Linked DNA regions of Homo sapiens: region 2 is linked to region 1. A link means that fine-mapping ties the variant in region 1 to the expression of a gene that starts in the linked region. Tissue or cell type: ileum. Region 1 holds a variant in brackets; the other region holds the start of a gene. All regions are shown on one strand. Distances are between the middles of the regions.

What was found. PIP is the estimated chance that this variant, and not a neighbour inherited with it, causes the effect.
Region 2: it holds the start of OR5B12, and the variant in region 1 is fine-mapped to the expression of OR5B12 in ileum (CEDAR, PIP 0.95).

What each region holds. Positions count from the first base shown.
Region 1 is chr11:58,826,436-58,834,545 of GRCh38, reverse strand. GLYATL2 (glycine-N-acyltransferase like 2) reads left to right here. Exons shown (of 6, transcript NM_145016.4): 6 at 1-481. The coding sequence ends at 117. Among named protein-coding and RNA genes, the nearest start is that of GLYATL2, 14 kb to the left of the region's middle. The variant CAG/G (reference allele first, on the strand shown) is at 3,272.
Region 2 is chr11:58,438,501-58,446,610 of GRCh38, reverse strand. It overlaps OR5B12 (olfactory receptor family 5 subfamily B member 12), which reads left to right and starts at 4,375. Exons shown (of 2, transcript NM_001004733.3): 1 at 4,375-4,565; 2 at 6,441-7,617. The coding sequence starts at 6,460. The coding sequence ends at 7,404.

The DNA of each region.
Region 1 (8,110 bases):
TATTTCCATGTGGCAGATAATAATGAGAAAAGCCTACAGGCACTGAACAATTTGGGGTTTAAGATTTGTCCTTGTGGCTGGCATCAGTGGAAATGCACCCCCAAGAAATATTGTTGATTGATTCCACTGTCCATTTCAAATCTTTCTTATCAGTAAAAAAACATTAATTCAAACACAAGCATTGTGATCTACATTAGCACAAAATGCAACTGATTATCTAGGATCTGTGTATTACTTAAGCTCACCCTTAACAGTTTTACCTTCCTTCTCCTCTGTATTCTTACAGAAAATTAGAAGCTCAATTTTATGGTCTCATAATTTCCTTTATGACAGACATCTCAGAATTAAAATCACCCAAAGCCAATCATTAGTGCCAAGATAACCCTTTAACGGCAACACTTTCTTAAATGAAGACTATTTCTTTCATGAAAAAATTCACTTTTATGACTTTCTTGTTAAAATAAAAAGTCTGCTTTTAAAAGTGTCTCCTCTGGTATTCTTCCCTTCCTTCTAAAAAGTTATCCCAAGGACTTTTAAAAAGCCCTCAGCATCATTGCTTTTTATTCGGAGTACCCTCTGAGGAGCTTTGAGATGCTCCGCTAAATTAAATTTTGTGGCCATGAGTGAAAATTTGGTTTTCTTACTTGCTTTTTATCACAAGGGGTTGCTAGGTTGAGTTGCAAATTTAAAGCTTAACTTTAAATTTTCAAGATAATTTTTATGTCTATGATGTATTAGTTTTGCCATTATAACAAATTATGATAAATATTATGACTTAAAGCAACACAATTTGTTATCTTATATTTATGGCAATCAGAAGTTCAGAATAGGATTTATGAGGCTAAACCCAACATGTTGGCAGGTACAGTTCCTTCTGGAGGTTATACGGGTAAATCAACTCCCTTGCCTTTTCCAGATCATACAGGCTGTCCTCACTCCTTAGCTTGTGTCTCTGTATCACATCATCTTTTATCTCTCTACTTTGATCATCATCGCATCACTTTCTTCTCTTCTACACTCAAATCTCCCTCTGCCTCCCTCTTAGAAGGACACTTGCATATACATAGGACCAACCTGGATAATCCAGGATAATCTCCCCATCTCAAGATTGTTAATTTAATCACACTTGTGAAATCTCTTTTGCCATATAACACTCAAAGCTTCTAGGGATTAGGACCTTAATATTTTTGGAGAGGCATTATTCGGCCACCCCTTATGTGTACAAGTGTATGTTTTTTCCTGAGCAAAGTTACCTCATACTTTCAGAATTTAAGTGTTCTCAGTCCAAGTCTGGTCATGATTTCTATATTCCAGGTCCATGTTGATGGAAAACTGAACTTACTCTAGCTTGACACCTTATCTATCTCAAATCCTATCAGCTATGACTTAAGGGTAAAGATCATTTAAAAAAATTGGTAGTTGGCCGAGCACGGTGGCTCACACCTGTAATCCCAGCACATTGGGAGGCCAAGGCTGGCAGATCGCGAGGTCCCGAGATGGAGACCAACCTGGCCAACAGGGTAAAACCCAGTCTCTACTAAAAATACAAAAATTAGCCAGGTGTGGTGGCAGGTGCCTGTAGTCTCAGCTACTCAGGAGGCTGAGGCAGGGGAGTCGCTTGAACCAGGGAGTCGGAGGTTGCAGTGAGCCAAGACTGTGCCACTGTAGTCCAGCCTGGCAACAGAGCAAGACCTCGTCTCAAAAAAAAGAAAAAAGAAAAAGTAATCAGAGCACATTCATAGAAGGGATTTGGGGGCGAAGACACCATAGATAAAAGGTTTAGTTAAATTTAGGCAAAATAGAATCAACATCTTCATCTTCAAAATATCCTTTTTGCTTGAAGATAGGTGCCTACCAAGGCTGGTAGAGATGATACAGTCAACCCACAACAGGGGACCACAGTCTGAAAATCCCTGTCATTCTCTGAAAAGAGAGAAGCTCCCAGGCACTCTGCCTTTACAGTGAGCCAGGAACTTAAGGACTTGGCTTCTCTCCAGACTCCACTTTTCCTATCCTAATTTACATTTTAGGACTTGGTCCTTATGATCAAACCTTCCAGCAGCCATGACACACCTTGGCTGTATAACTTAAAGTAGAAAGTGCTGACTCAAGATAGTATCGAAGTAATCACAGAGATGCAATAAAGTGAGTGAGAAATGTTCACACAATGATAAGACCTTACATTTTAGATAGCACTTAGATTCCAGGCAGCATTCCAAGTGTTTCACACATTTTAACACCTTTAGTACTCACAACTATCCCAAGAGGTAAGCAGGCATTGTCATTACAGAAGAGAAAACCACACTAGAGAGCATTTACATCCCTCCTCCAAGGCCATCTAATGAATAAGTGGCCAATTCAGGAAGTGAACTCAGCATGGCTTCCAAGATAGTACTCAACTTCTGAGATATAACTAGTGACAGAAGGCTAAGGCTTAATAAACATTAGCAAATTAAATTATGAATAATTGCATTTTAGCAATATCAGACTCTGGACAACAACATTCTCTTGTTGACTATGATCCATCATGTAATTTTGTACCAGAATCCTCCCAATTTCTAATAAAAAGACCCAGGGAGTCAGCCAACATACTTTATACCCCTTTTACTAATCAATTCTGATTGATCCTAGAGATAACATTAGCTCTAGAAACTCTTGCACAACTTTCAAGTCCTCACCTCAATGCCTCTGGCTGGATTTTTGTTGGCTGGATGACTTCACACAAGGGGTGCTCACACCAAATATTGAACCCAGAGATAGAGTATTTCATAGAAATATTTCTGCTATTGTGGGATCATTCTAATGTCCACAATCCTACCTAAAGCTAAGCCTAGAAGATGATTCAAACTTTGCTCCTCTAGGCAACACAAGGTAAGTGAAGTGTGAACGTTGCTTTGTGCTGCACTTGGCCAGCCTCTGGACTCTAGCTTTATTAAGAGAAGATGACAGTTGCCAAAAAAGTAACTTGTTGCTAAAAATTTACCAAAGTTGGTTAGTTAAGATTGGGTTCAAGTAGCAATGATCAACTTGAGTTACTCTGAGCATGAACAAAGTGTTTTATTTATTTGAATATAAATTAAAAATATAAAGATATGGATTCTCAAATACAAGAATATAGATTGACCCCCAGGAAAAAGGATAGACCCTGGAAATGGAAAACTACCAGGGGCTCTGGGACCACTTTTTCTCCATGCTTGTTTTCTCTGGACAGACAGGCTTAAAAAGTACACACACACACACACACACACACACACACACACACACACACACA[CAG/G]TGGTAAAATATATATAACATAATATTTATTATTCTAACCACGGTAAGTACAATGCAGCGGTATTAAATATATCCACAATATTATATAACCATTCTCATTGTTTCAGAGGCGCAGACTGCAGAGCCGCCCAGGTCCTGAGCCTGGGAGGGCGGTTGCAGCTGCACCTCTGGGAGCTCTCGCCCTGCCAATACGCAAGAGGCAGGGCTCCCGCTTGTCCCCTGCTCCCCTGGCTCCCTGTAGCTTGCAGCCCCCGGGATGCCTCCGAAATGGGAACGGGCGCTGACAGCGGAGAGAAGCCACGCAGTGGGAGCAGGCACTTCCGAGCCTGTGGGAGGCAGAGGGGTCTTCCTGGGCCCCCAAGAACACAGAGACGCGTGATCCCGAGAGCCGAGAGCCGTGGCAGGGCGGCTGCAGGGGCACCCAGGGAGGGCGGGGCTCCTGCCGGCTCCGTGGAGCGTTATAGCTCTGGCCAGAGCCTCTCCGCGGTATCCTGTGTCTTGATAGCGGCGGCTCTAGATGGGCAGCTGTTTCCGTCACTATTACGTACACCTAAAACTTTTTCATCATCTCCAGCATGAACTCTGTACCCATTAAACAACTCCTCATACTCCCCTCCCTCCCAGATCCTGGTAACCTCTATTCTATGGTCTCCATGAATTTCTCTACTTTGGGCATGTCACAAAAGTGGATTCATACAATATGTATATATCATTTTGTATCTGACTTATTACACTTAGCATAACGTCATCAAGGTCCATTAATATTGTAGCATATATCAAAATTTAGCTTTTTTGTGGCTGAATAATATTCTACTGTATATATACACCATATTTTGTTTTTCCATTCATCTGTTGATGGACATTTGTGTTGTTTTCACCTTTGGCTATTGTGAATAACGTTGCTATGAATGTGAGTATACAAATATGTTTGAGGCCTTACTTTCAGTTCTTTGAGGTATATGTCTAGGAGTGAAGCTGCTGAATTACATGGTAGTTCTATGTTTAGCTTTTGGAGGAACTGCCAAACTGTTTTCCACAGTGGTTGCACTCTTTCTTTCCTTCCAGCAAAGCACAAGCGTTCCCTTTTCACTCCACATCCTTGTCAATAACTGTTATTTATCCCCTTTAAAAGAATTATAGCCATTCTAGTAAATGTAAAATGATATTTCATTGTGGTTTTGGTTTGCATTTCCCTAATGACTCATAATATTGAACATTTTTTATGTGCTTATTGGCCATTTGTGCAGATAGGCTCTTGAATTACAGCTCTAAATTTTTGCATTTCTGCCATTCAAATGACTCACTCAGATAGATACTTAACTTTCTTAGTCACAACTCCAAATTCATCAGTGACTACACCACTACACCTAAATGCAGCAGCCAGGTGCCCACTCCTGGCCCAGTCAGTTATGGCAAGTTCTGTGGCCCAAATACTATATCAAATAGTACCTCCTGGTGTCCCTTTGGGTGGAACAGAAGTGGGCAAGGGAAAGAAGTTAGCAGGAAAGGAATTACTTTTATCTGGAAATACCAAAAACTGACAACATTTCTCTTTTATTTATTTTATTTTACTTGGATTAGGATAAAACCACTGAACACAATAACTACACAATATTTGGCAAAAAATCCTCAATAAACTAAAGAAATAAGCTGAGTATTTTCTATGCAGAAAGCAGTATGTTCAGCTGAACTTGCTTCTCTTTTAGTTTTCTGATGGCCAAGCCCTAGTAGAACATTTAGGAATCAACTTTTCTCCTTATTTTTTTTTTTTTATAACTTTGGCATGTCTCTGTTCTGCCAGCCCCAAGTTGGCCCGTCCCTGTTACAGAGAAAGAAGACAAGGAACCTGCTGTCTTCTGTAGTTCCCAACATTTTATGCTTTTCTTCTTTAATCTTTTAGAAACTTTCTCCAAGGTAGAAAGATTTTTGAGGTGGCTCTTTAGGAAAGATTAAGAAAGCATTGGCAGGCATATTGGTGGCTTGGTGTGGAGAGCCAGTGGGAAAGCTTCAGTAAATTGCGTAGATCAGAACCACTTTTCACAGAAACTTTCCTTACTTATATGACATTTCCAAAAGGGAGTGGCAATACAACATACAATAACCTAAACAGTGGCCTATAAAGTGATATACTGTCACATCTAACTCAGGATGTGGTACACTGTAAGGGATGACGAGTTGAGGCTCAGAGACTAGGTTCAAGTTTTAGTTCTCTCTCTTGCTAGCTATGTGATCCATAGTAAGACCCTTCAACTCTCTGAGCCTCAGTTTCCTCATCTGTGGAATGGGGTAATTATGCCAATTTGGAATTGGCTTATTTATTGTATGTATAATATATAATATTGTAATGATCAAATGCAATAAAATAAAGAGTTTCTAGTATATAGGACATGCTGAAAAAATGGTTGTTTGATGATAATGTTGTTATAGTAGATATTTAATAAGTATTAGTACCTCTTTGATCCCCACTAGTCCCTCAAATTCTTTCTTAGCAGCCATTTTGACCCTGAAACTTTGAGACATGTCTCAGTTAATTTAGAATGTTTATTTTGCCAAGGTTGAGGACACATGCCGATGACACAGCCTCAGTAGGCCATGACAACATGTGCCCAAGGTAGTCAGAGCATAGTTCGGTTTTATACATTTTAGGGAGACATGAGACATCAATAATCAACATATGTAAGATGAACATAGGTTCGGTCTGGAAAGGCGGGACAACTTGAAGCAAAGGTGAGACAACACAAAGTGGGAGGGGGCTTGCAGGTCATAGGTAGATAAGAGACAAATGGTTGCATTCTTCTGAGTTTCTGATTAACCTCTCCAAAGGAAGCAAATAGATATGCATTTATCTCATTGAGCAGAGGGTTGACTTTGAATAGAATGAGAAACAGGTTGGCCCTCAGGAGTTCCCAGCTTGACTTTTTCCTTTAGATTAGTGATTTTGGGGGCCCAAGATGTTTTCCTTTCACATTTCCTCCCTTTTCTTTTTAAAAATCTTTTGGATAAATTATTTTAGAAGAAAATGACTCTCTGGTCCCAGGTTTTGTCTCATCTCTCATGGCTAAGATGGTTTATTCCTAGACAGGTAAGTCCTACATTATTAGGAAGGCTCATTTTTAGAAGGTTGTGAAGTCTCTTGTCCTATGAAGAGAAAATATGTGGAGAAAGGGAAAAAAAACAACAACAACAAGCAAAAGAACAATCCTGGAAAATCACTATAGGCCACATTACTCTGAAGTCCATATATCAGTAGGAAGGTATGAAAGTGGCTTATTTATATAAATAGGTTGCTATTATTTTCTTCTGAAGATTAAGTTATCTAGCTTCAGTTTGCAGGGCTTTACAAAGTCACAGCTTAGTTTTCTGTGACTCCAAATTAGGAAAAATACAAGAAAAAAGAAGGAGGCCGGGTGCGGTGGGTCACGCCTCTAATCCCAGCACTTTGGGAGGCCGAGACGGGCAGATCACGACGTCAGGAGATCAAGACCATCCTGGCTAACACGGTGAAACCCCGTCTCTACTAAAAATATAAAAAAAAATTAACCAGGCTTGGTGGCAGGCACCTGCAGTCCCAGCTACTCAGGAGGCTGAGGCAGGAGAATGGCATGAACCCGGAAGGTGGAGCTTGCAGTGAGCTGAGATCGTGCCACTGCACTCCAGCCTGGGTGACAGAGTGAGACTCCATCTCAAAATAAATAATTAATTAAATAAATAAAAATTTTAAAAAGAAGGAAAAAAATTGAACATTATTTTGAAAACTTGTAGCAAAGAAAAATTAGAATTCAGTCCAAAATGTAGAAAATAATAACAATGGAAAAATATTAGGCAAGACTAGAATCTAACAACAGGTATACTATAGTTTTTAAAACATAATTTTTCTGTCTCCACTTTCTCATATTTGCTAAAGACAAAAATCATGGTAAGACTGGTTTGCTTTATTATACTTGGCCTAATTATTTGTATACAGTATGGCAAGAATAATTATTTTTATATAGGCTTTTAAATTGGCTTTGATGGAACTTTGTTCCATAGAAGGAACTTCAGATAAGACTTTTTTTAAAGCTGAGCTCAGCCATGGATTTGTGTCATCAAATACCTATGAGTTGGGTGATCCTCCTCACTTGAGGTTCCAAGATATACTTGGGGCTCCTGGGACTGTCAGAAAGTGATATTCTTTACTCATCACAGATCAGGAACCCTGAACAGGGGCTGTGCAGAAAAAGATATGAGGACAGTTTTTCCAAGGGGCTTTTTTTGGCTCCATAAGTCAAGTTTGATTCCTTAAAGGAAAGTACACCATTCCAGTCAAAGCCTTGGGAAAATAACCAGTTTCTCCAATTTGTGTCCTGTTACAAATGAAAACAGATTCTTATTGCACTTGTGATAATAATTGTATTGTCATAAATTAAGAATTCTCACAAATAGTTTCCAAATTCTAGAGAAATCAGGTAGAGAGAAACAAATATGCTCCAAATTTTGTTCATATGAGTATACTTTACTCAATTGATAAAATCTGCAAATAGCTTAAAAGTTTTCTTGACTCTGAAAAACAAAGCTAAGAAGATTGCTTTAGTCTTCAATTAGTTCAGTTCACAAAGTTAACTCCTGTTCTCCTTGATATTCATGAACATTTCAGCTCTCCATGAGAGTGCTAAAAGTTTTTTCCTTTATTCTAATGTTACAATCTCCAAAGTTGTCATAAACCTGCATTCAAGAACACCTGTTTAAGTTCTGTAGTTGATTATAAAATCACCTGCTAAGGAGGATTTAAATGAGACAAAAATTGTCTGTGGATGACAAAAGGTTTTAGGGCAGCCATAGTCAAAGGCACAATTGACAA
Region 2 (8,110 bases), 390 kb after region 1:
TATCTCAGCTTATTGGAATTGTGTACCTAGGAGGATTATGGCAGCCTTTGCTGAGTCATGCAAGTTGTTAGGGAAGTCAGGGAAAGCCGGCAGTCACAGGCCTCACCCAGCTCCCACACAAACTGAAAGACCAGTCTCACTCCCACCATGCCCCACCCCAGCAGCCCTGAGTCTATTTTTAGGTGGTGGGGGAAACGGGCTTGAAAACTCGCCCCAGGCTACCTGCCTCCCATCTTCGAAAGAAAGGTGTTTGGTTGTTCCCCTGCCTGTGGAATCTGCACACCAGATTTGCGCCCTCCCCAAAGTTCTGGCCAGGAGGCTTCTTGCCCTGTTCAAATTGTTACAGAGCTCAGCTAAAGATTTCCTTCTCCCTGTGTAGTTTTACCCCCTGCTCTTCTGGCCACCCTTCCAAGGATCCCTGTGGTGTCAAGCAGGAATGGGCTGTTTGGGGGCCTAGCGAGCTCCTAGGACTTTTCTGATCCTTCTTTTACCCCTGTATTTCACTCAGCTCTCTAAATTGACTCAGCTCCAGGTAAGGTCAGAACTTTCTCCCACAAACAGACCTTCAATTTCTCTAGTGGGGGGTGTGTGTTCGGGACAGGAGGTCTCCCTTTCCCACTTCTGCAGTTGGGGCAGTCACGGTGTTTGGAGTGTGTCCCAGGTCCTGCTGGAGCAGTCCACTTCTTTCAGAGGGTCTGTGGGTACTCTCGAGATTGATGGTTTGTTCTTAAAGTTGATCTGGAGCTTAAATTCAGAATGTGAGCCTCCACACACTGCTCTGTCCAGAATTATAATCTAGTCCTGCCTCCCCTCTGCCATGATGATCTCCATAGGCTTTCTTCATTTCTTTTTATCCTTTTTACTTTTTTCTTCTCTGATTTTATTTTTTCAAATAATCTATCTTCAAGTTTACAAATTCTTTCTTCTGTTTGATCAATTCTGCTGATGACCTGCATTTGGTATTTTATGCATTGTATTCTTCCACTCCAGGCTTTATGGAGTTTTTAAATTCTTAATCTCTTTGTTAAACTTCTTGTTTTGCTCATATATTGTTTTACTGGTTTCAATTTGTTGTCTCTCTGTGTTCTCTTTTAGTTTGCTGAGCCTCCTTAAGACAACTATTTTGAATTCTTTGTCAGGCAGTTTGTAGATCTCCATTTCTTTGGGGCTTGTTACTGGAAATTATTATTACTACTATTATTTGAGACAAGGTTTTGCTCTGTCCCCAAGGCTGGAGTGCAGTGACACAATCATGGCTCACTGCAGTCTCAAACTCCTGGGCTCAAGTGATTTTCCTGCCTTAGGCTCCCTGGTATCTGGGACTACAGATATATGCCACTATGCCCACCTAATTTCTTTATCTTTAGTAGAGACAGGGTCTTGCTCTGTTGCCCAGGCTGGTCTTCACCTCCTGAACTCAAACATTTCTCCTGCCTTGGCCTCCCAAAGGGCTGGGATTACAGGCAAGAGCCACTATGCCTGGCTGATATTATTCTTTTGGTGGTAACATATTTCCTTGTTTTTTCATATATCCTGTTATCCTTCATTGATGTCTGCACATTTGGTAGAACAGTCACCTCTTCCTGACTTTATGTGCTGGTTTCACTGGGAAAAGGCTTTCCCTTAAGGGAGAGTGCTATGGCACTGACTGGGAGAGATTTGGCGGTTTGGGCTCTGGCAAGGGTGCAGTGGCATAGTCTTTGTGCTGCTCTGTCAACTTAGGTTGGCATTGGTGAAGATTGCAGGGATTTTAGAAGCCAAGACTGTGGGTATCAATAGCAGCAGTAAGAGCTAATGGGGTCTTCAGTGGTGAAGGCCACTGAGGTTTTCTCAATCTCTTTTTATTCCACAGGGAAATCATGGCTGAGGAGATCACTTTTGGCACAGTGTCCAGTGGGTACACCTGTAGTTGTGGTGACACTGATATCAGATGCATGGTGCTTGTGCAACAGTCCTGGAGTCAAGATCTGAAGCATGGACATGCACAGAGGCATAATCACTCTGGAGTCTGAAGTGTCGATGACATGAATGCCTTGGGTGTAGATGCCCCACTGCTGCATTGATAACTGTGTGTGGGGCACAGATGCTTGTAAAGCAGCTGAGAAGCTGGGGGCCAAAGTCCAGGCATGTGCAGAGATACAGTGGCTCTAGGGTCCAGAGTGTAGGTTTGCTCAGAGCTACCGTGACTCTGGGCTCTGGGCCTCAAGCTGCTCAATATTGTAGTGGAGTTGGTGCATGAAGTGAGTATGCACACACAGCAACTGGGGCTCTAAGGTGTGGGGTGTGGCTAACCTATAACAGTAGTGGCTCCAGTGTTTGAGGCATGTGCAAAATTGGAAGGAATGGTGGCTTTGGCCATGGGGCAACAAAGCAGTTGCCCCTTCTGGGAGCATTGGTCCAGCAGTGTTTCCTTTTCTGGGGGCTCCACGGTGGGGATGGCTGTTGATTATCTTGGTAGTGAAAGATGGCAGTGTTCTCTGTAGAGCAGGTTGCTGGGAACAATGGTGGCATTCATAACATGGTTGATAATGCTAGAACTTGCTTTTCTTTGTTCCTAGACATCTCTAGACATGTCGGTTAATACATATCTCCAACAGTCTTTTCTATGTGGTTATTCCCCTCCCACATTTTTTATTTCACTATGTTGCTACAGGTTTTTAAATGGTCCCTTGAGTCCTACTAAGGCTATTATCATTCATGGATAATTATCGGTTGATTTTTTGTGTGAGGGGAAGAGGATTGTATCTCCTATTCTGCCATCTTGTTTATGTGTCACTCTGTTTGTTTTGTTTGTCAAGGTTTCTTTGGTGGAGGATGCTGAAATAGAAATTGACAAGGAAGAGGTCTAGTTATGAAGAAAACATACTGGCTTCTTTTAGATTTTGTTAACTGTTTTGAAACTTGGGTCCTTTACTACATACATTTCATTTTGTTTGGAATGATCTTTTCCATACTAGTTCTTTGTCATTTTTAAACTTGGCTGAAATCTTTTTTTTTTTTTTGAGACGGAGTCTCGCTCTATCCCCCTGTCCCCCAGGCTGGAGTGCAGTGGTGCGATCTCGGATCGCTGCAAGCTCCGTCTCCCGGGTTCACGCCATTCTCCTGCCTCAGCCTCCCGAGTAGCTGGGACTACAGGCGCCCGCTACCACGCCCGGCTATTTTTTTGTATTTTTTAGTATAGACGGGGTTTCACCGTGTTAGCCAGGATGGTCTTGATCTCCTGACCTCGTGATCCGCCTGCCTCGGCCTCCCAAAGTGCTGGGATAACAGGCTTGAGCCACCGCGCCTGGCCAAACTTGGCTGAAATCTTAATTTTCCAGAGAAAACATTCTGACCAAACAATATAAAGTAGACTTATTTTTTATCTCATTTTTATGTATAGTTACATGCTTATTCCACACATAATTATATATATGTACATATGTATTTATATGTGTAAATATGCATATTTACGCATGTTTCTTACGGGGTTTATTTGCTTACTGTCTATCTTCTCCATTAGATTTAAACACCATGGGCACAAGAATGATGTTTATTTTGAATGGGTCTATGTTCTCAGCTCTCATTACTATGGCTAAAATCCATTTGCAATCAATAAACAGTTGATGAATTAATATTTCTTCTCAATGGTTCAAACATTTAAGGTGAATTAAAAGAAGTACTAATCCCTGAAGTCCACATCCCTTATTTAATGATAAAATGTATGTCTCTGTCTCTTAGTATTTATGTCAAATAACAGTCTTGAAGGACATGCTGTGGCTTAATTTGTGCATTACCCAAGAGAATAACTGAAAGTAACATAAATACACTCATGATCTCCCACAACAAGCAGAGCTGAATCCCCATAGATACTTTAATCACCTGATTTCCAGTTATGTGAGATAAAGTGTTTTGTAGACCTCATAGAGTATGTGTCGCCTGAGAGCTCCATGACCATACAATTACCTCCTGGTTCCCACTTTTCAACTGATCAAGTACCTATATGATTCCATTTGGCTTCATATTAGAGGGAGCAGCCCCAGAACCAGAGTCACTTTGACCATTTATTTATTCGTCTGATTGTCAATAGTCATCTAGTAGTAACTATGGCCTTCTCCAAAACTGATACATAGCAAAGAGCCTACAACAATGTTTAGGAAAAAAACCAGTAATTATTATATTAATTGAGGTTATGATTATCACCTCTTACCAAGTATAAGAAATTGTAGGTTTCCTATTCTTTTCTTACCATAGCAGCAGTTTTCAGGCTGGATGTTGTTAGGGCTATCTTTTAATATTTTCTTTTTTATAGATTCAGCTATTGATATTCAAATGGGTTAAGAGACTTATCTACAAAGAAGGGGCAGTAAATACAGGAGTAGAGCTCTTGCTAGCTGATTCCAAAGCCAATAGCATTTTTCTTTCAATTTCCCCCTGCCTCTAAAGAACTTTAAGCCTTTTGGCCAAACGCTAAAGAACAGTCTCCAAAAAGTTGTTTTCCTTCTTTAAAGGACTTAATTTCTGATGTGACATTCACTTATATATGAAAGTGCTGGACCTGAATTTTGTATTTCTCAGGGAGAAAGGTAAGTCTCTGGATCAAATCTATTGTCTGCACAAAGTTACAGGGGCAGAGGTAACTAGAAAAATGCATCGAGGTACCCCTTTCTCCTTTGGTTTAATCAGGGATTTGGCTCTAATATTTTGACTATTTCTTTTATCTGTTTCACACATCCAGAGGCTATATATGTTGAGTATTCCTCATCTAAAATATTTGGGAACAGAAGTGTTTTGGATTTTGGATTTTTTAGAATTTTTGAATATTTGCATGTTTATGAGATATATTGGGGATGAAACCCAAATTTAAACACAAAATTCATTTATGTTTTATATACACGTTATATCCATAGCCTAAGTAATTTTACATAATATTTTAAATAATTTTTGCACATGAAACAAAGTATGTGCTACATACTTATGTGTGGAATTTTCCATTTGTAGCATCATGTTGGTTCTCAAATAGTTTTGGATTTGGAAGCATTTTAGACTTTGGATTTTTGGATTAGGGATTCCCAACTTGTGTAGAATGTGTTTACTTATCATGTGACATAAAGAAAAAGCACAAGAAGGCCTCGAGTCCCTGCTTTACAAAGAATAAGATTGCATTACTTTGAGCAAGTTAAACTATTTATTTCTCAGTTTTCTTTTTCAGGAAATATGATAATATTAGTTCTCCTAATTCTACAATTGTTGAGATAGTCAAATGGAATATCAACATAAAATTTTACCATAATCTGGAAGCCCATACTAATATTTTTTTAAAAAGAGAGACAGAAGGAATGGTGATTAATAAATGAGGAAGAAATCAGGCTTACAAGCCAGTTATAAAATGCACTGAAATAGAGATGTGCAAAATTACATAAGGCACAACTAACTATTGGAATGAGGAGACCTAATCTCATGTGCTAATTCTGTCACTAAAAACATCTGGTCATTGGACACACAATTTATAAACTATATTGTGGACCGACTGATGGTCTACAGTGTAGATGTGATTAACATCTATCACACAGTTCTGAGCAAATAAGAAAACACTTCTGTCTCCTTGGGAATGGAGAATAAGAATATTCTGAACTTAAACATAATATTTATCAGTTTAGATATCTATCTGGTCAGGAAATGTATCTCTTGCATTAATGTAAACCTGGCAATTAGCATGAAACATGGTGCTCCATTCGAAATTAGAGCTTGTAGAGAGAATAAAGAAATGAACACATCCAGAGATTTATGTTGATTGGTCAATTGGTTGGTATTACTGAAGAGTCATGTTCCTTTTTAACTTTTTGAAGATTTTTTTAAGGGTTGGAAGTAGTTATAAACATTTGTGGATCCAGTTATTATCATTTAACTGAGATCCAGAAATGTAGGTTATTTGCATGAAGCCAAGAAAACTGGTAAGTATATTTGATTCCTAATTTCATGCTATTCCATTCTTCACATTGACTTACAATGATAGATTTAATTACTCCATCAGGCAGTCAGTCAATTAAATAAATTACTGTCTTGTGCCCAGTTTAGACTGAATGTAAAAGATTTAAAGGAATTTTTCTTTGTGATAAAGAGTTAAGGCTTTAATTCAAAGTGACTTGGTTTTATATTTCACCTGTTCCAATTAATTAGTCTGATGATCTTGTATGAATCTTCCTTTTCTGTACCTTAGTTCGGTAATCTATGAAATTAGGAGTTCGGGATGAATTATCTCCAAAATCATTTTATTAAGAATGCTCTATGAATTATTGTAATTTAAAGTTGCATTTTGCGGTCATGGGCATGTTTTAGATCCGGGACTCCTGGAAACAAGTAATTACAATACTGGAATAAAGCAAAAAAATGGCATGCTGATTGATCTCAGTAGTCCTCCCTCCATTTATCATTCTGATTCTGCCTTTTCATTTCTACAGGGCAGCTACATAATTCCCAATGGAGAACAACACAGAGGTGACTGAATTCATCCTTGTGGGGTTAACTGATGACCCAGAACTGCAGATCCCACTCTTCATAGTCTTCCTTTTCATCTACCTCATCACTCTGGTTGGGAACCTGGGGATGATTGAATTGATTCTACTGGACTCCTGTCTCCACACCCCCATGTACTTCTTCCTCAGTAACCTCTCCCTGGTGGACTTTGGTTATTCCTCAGCTGTCACTCCCAAGGTGATGGTGGGGTTTCTCACAGGAGACAAATTCATATTATATAATGCTTGTGCCACACAATTCTTCTTCTTTGTAGCCTTTATCACTGCAGAAAGTTTCCTCCTGGCATCAATGGCCTATGACCGCTATGCAGCATTGTGTAAACCCCTGCATTACACCACCACCATGACAACAAATGTATGTGCTTGCCTGGCCATAGGCTCCTACATCTGTGGTTTCCTGAATGCATCCATTCATACTGGGAACACTTTCAGGCTCTCCTTCTGTAGATCCAATGTAGTTGAACACTTTTTCTGTGATGCTCCTCCTCTCTTGACTCTCTCATGTTCAGACAACTACATCAGTGAGATGGTTATTTTTTTTGTGGTGGGATTCAATGACCTCTTTTCTATCCTGGTAATCTTGATCTCCTACTTATTTATATTTATCACCATCATGAAGATGCGCTCACCTGAAGGACGCCAGAAGGCCTTTTCTACTTGTGCTTCCCACCTTACTGCAGTTTCCATCTTTTATGGGACAGGAATCTTTATGTACTTACGACCTAACTCCAGCCATTTCATGGGCACAGACAAAATGGCATCTGTGTTCTATGCCATAGTCATTCCCATGTTGAATCCACTGGTCTACAGCCTGAGGAACAAAGAGGTTAAGAGTGCCTTTAAAAAGACTGTAGGGAAGGCAAAGGCCTCTATAGGATTCATATTTTAATTATAAAGAATTCACAATAAGATAATTTTTTCCACCTCATATTAATCTTTGTCTACCAAGCCCAATATTTGGGCTTCCTCATGGACAGTTTCTATTGACTGTTTTCTTAAACATATGAATTGGCCATACTTTCTTCATTCTTTAAGTGACACTTTTTTTGTTGTTAAAATCTGGACATTTTAAATAATAAAAAATAGCATATTCTAAAAATCAGATCTCTCCTCCCATCTAGGCTTTGTTTTTGTTGGTGGTACTTTTGTTTGTTTAGTGATTTTCCTGAGTTACTTATGTTAATTCTGCATTTCTTGTTGTGTGTGGCCACTGAAATTTCTACTCAGTTAGGTTAGTGGTCAACTAACAATTGGGTAAAGTTTTTTAAGTGCTTTAAATTGCTAATTCTCTGAAGCCTTATGCATGGGCTTTGCATGTGTGTGTTGGAGCACGTTTTCAGCGCTCCAGCAGTTTAAATTCTGCCTTTAATCTTCACGTCCTCTGTGCAGAGCCTCAAGTTCAGCCACAAATGAAACATTAGGTCCTCTCAGGTCTTTCCTGTGCATACATAAGGCCTTGCCCATATGCATGATTTTTGTAATCCCCAGGAATGTATGGGAGCTTTTCAAAGCCCTCTATGGATTTCTAAAGCCGTCATCAATTTTTTTTAAGAGTTTGGTTAGATTATTGTATGCTCCAACTGATATTTACATTT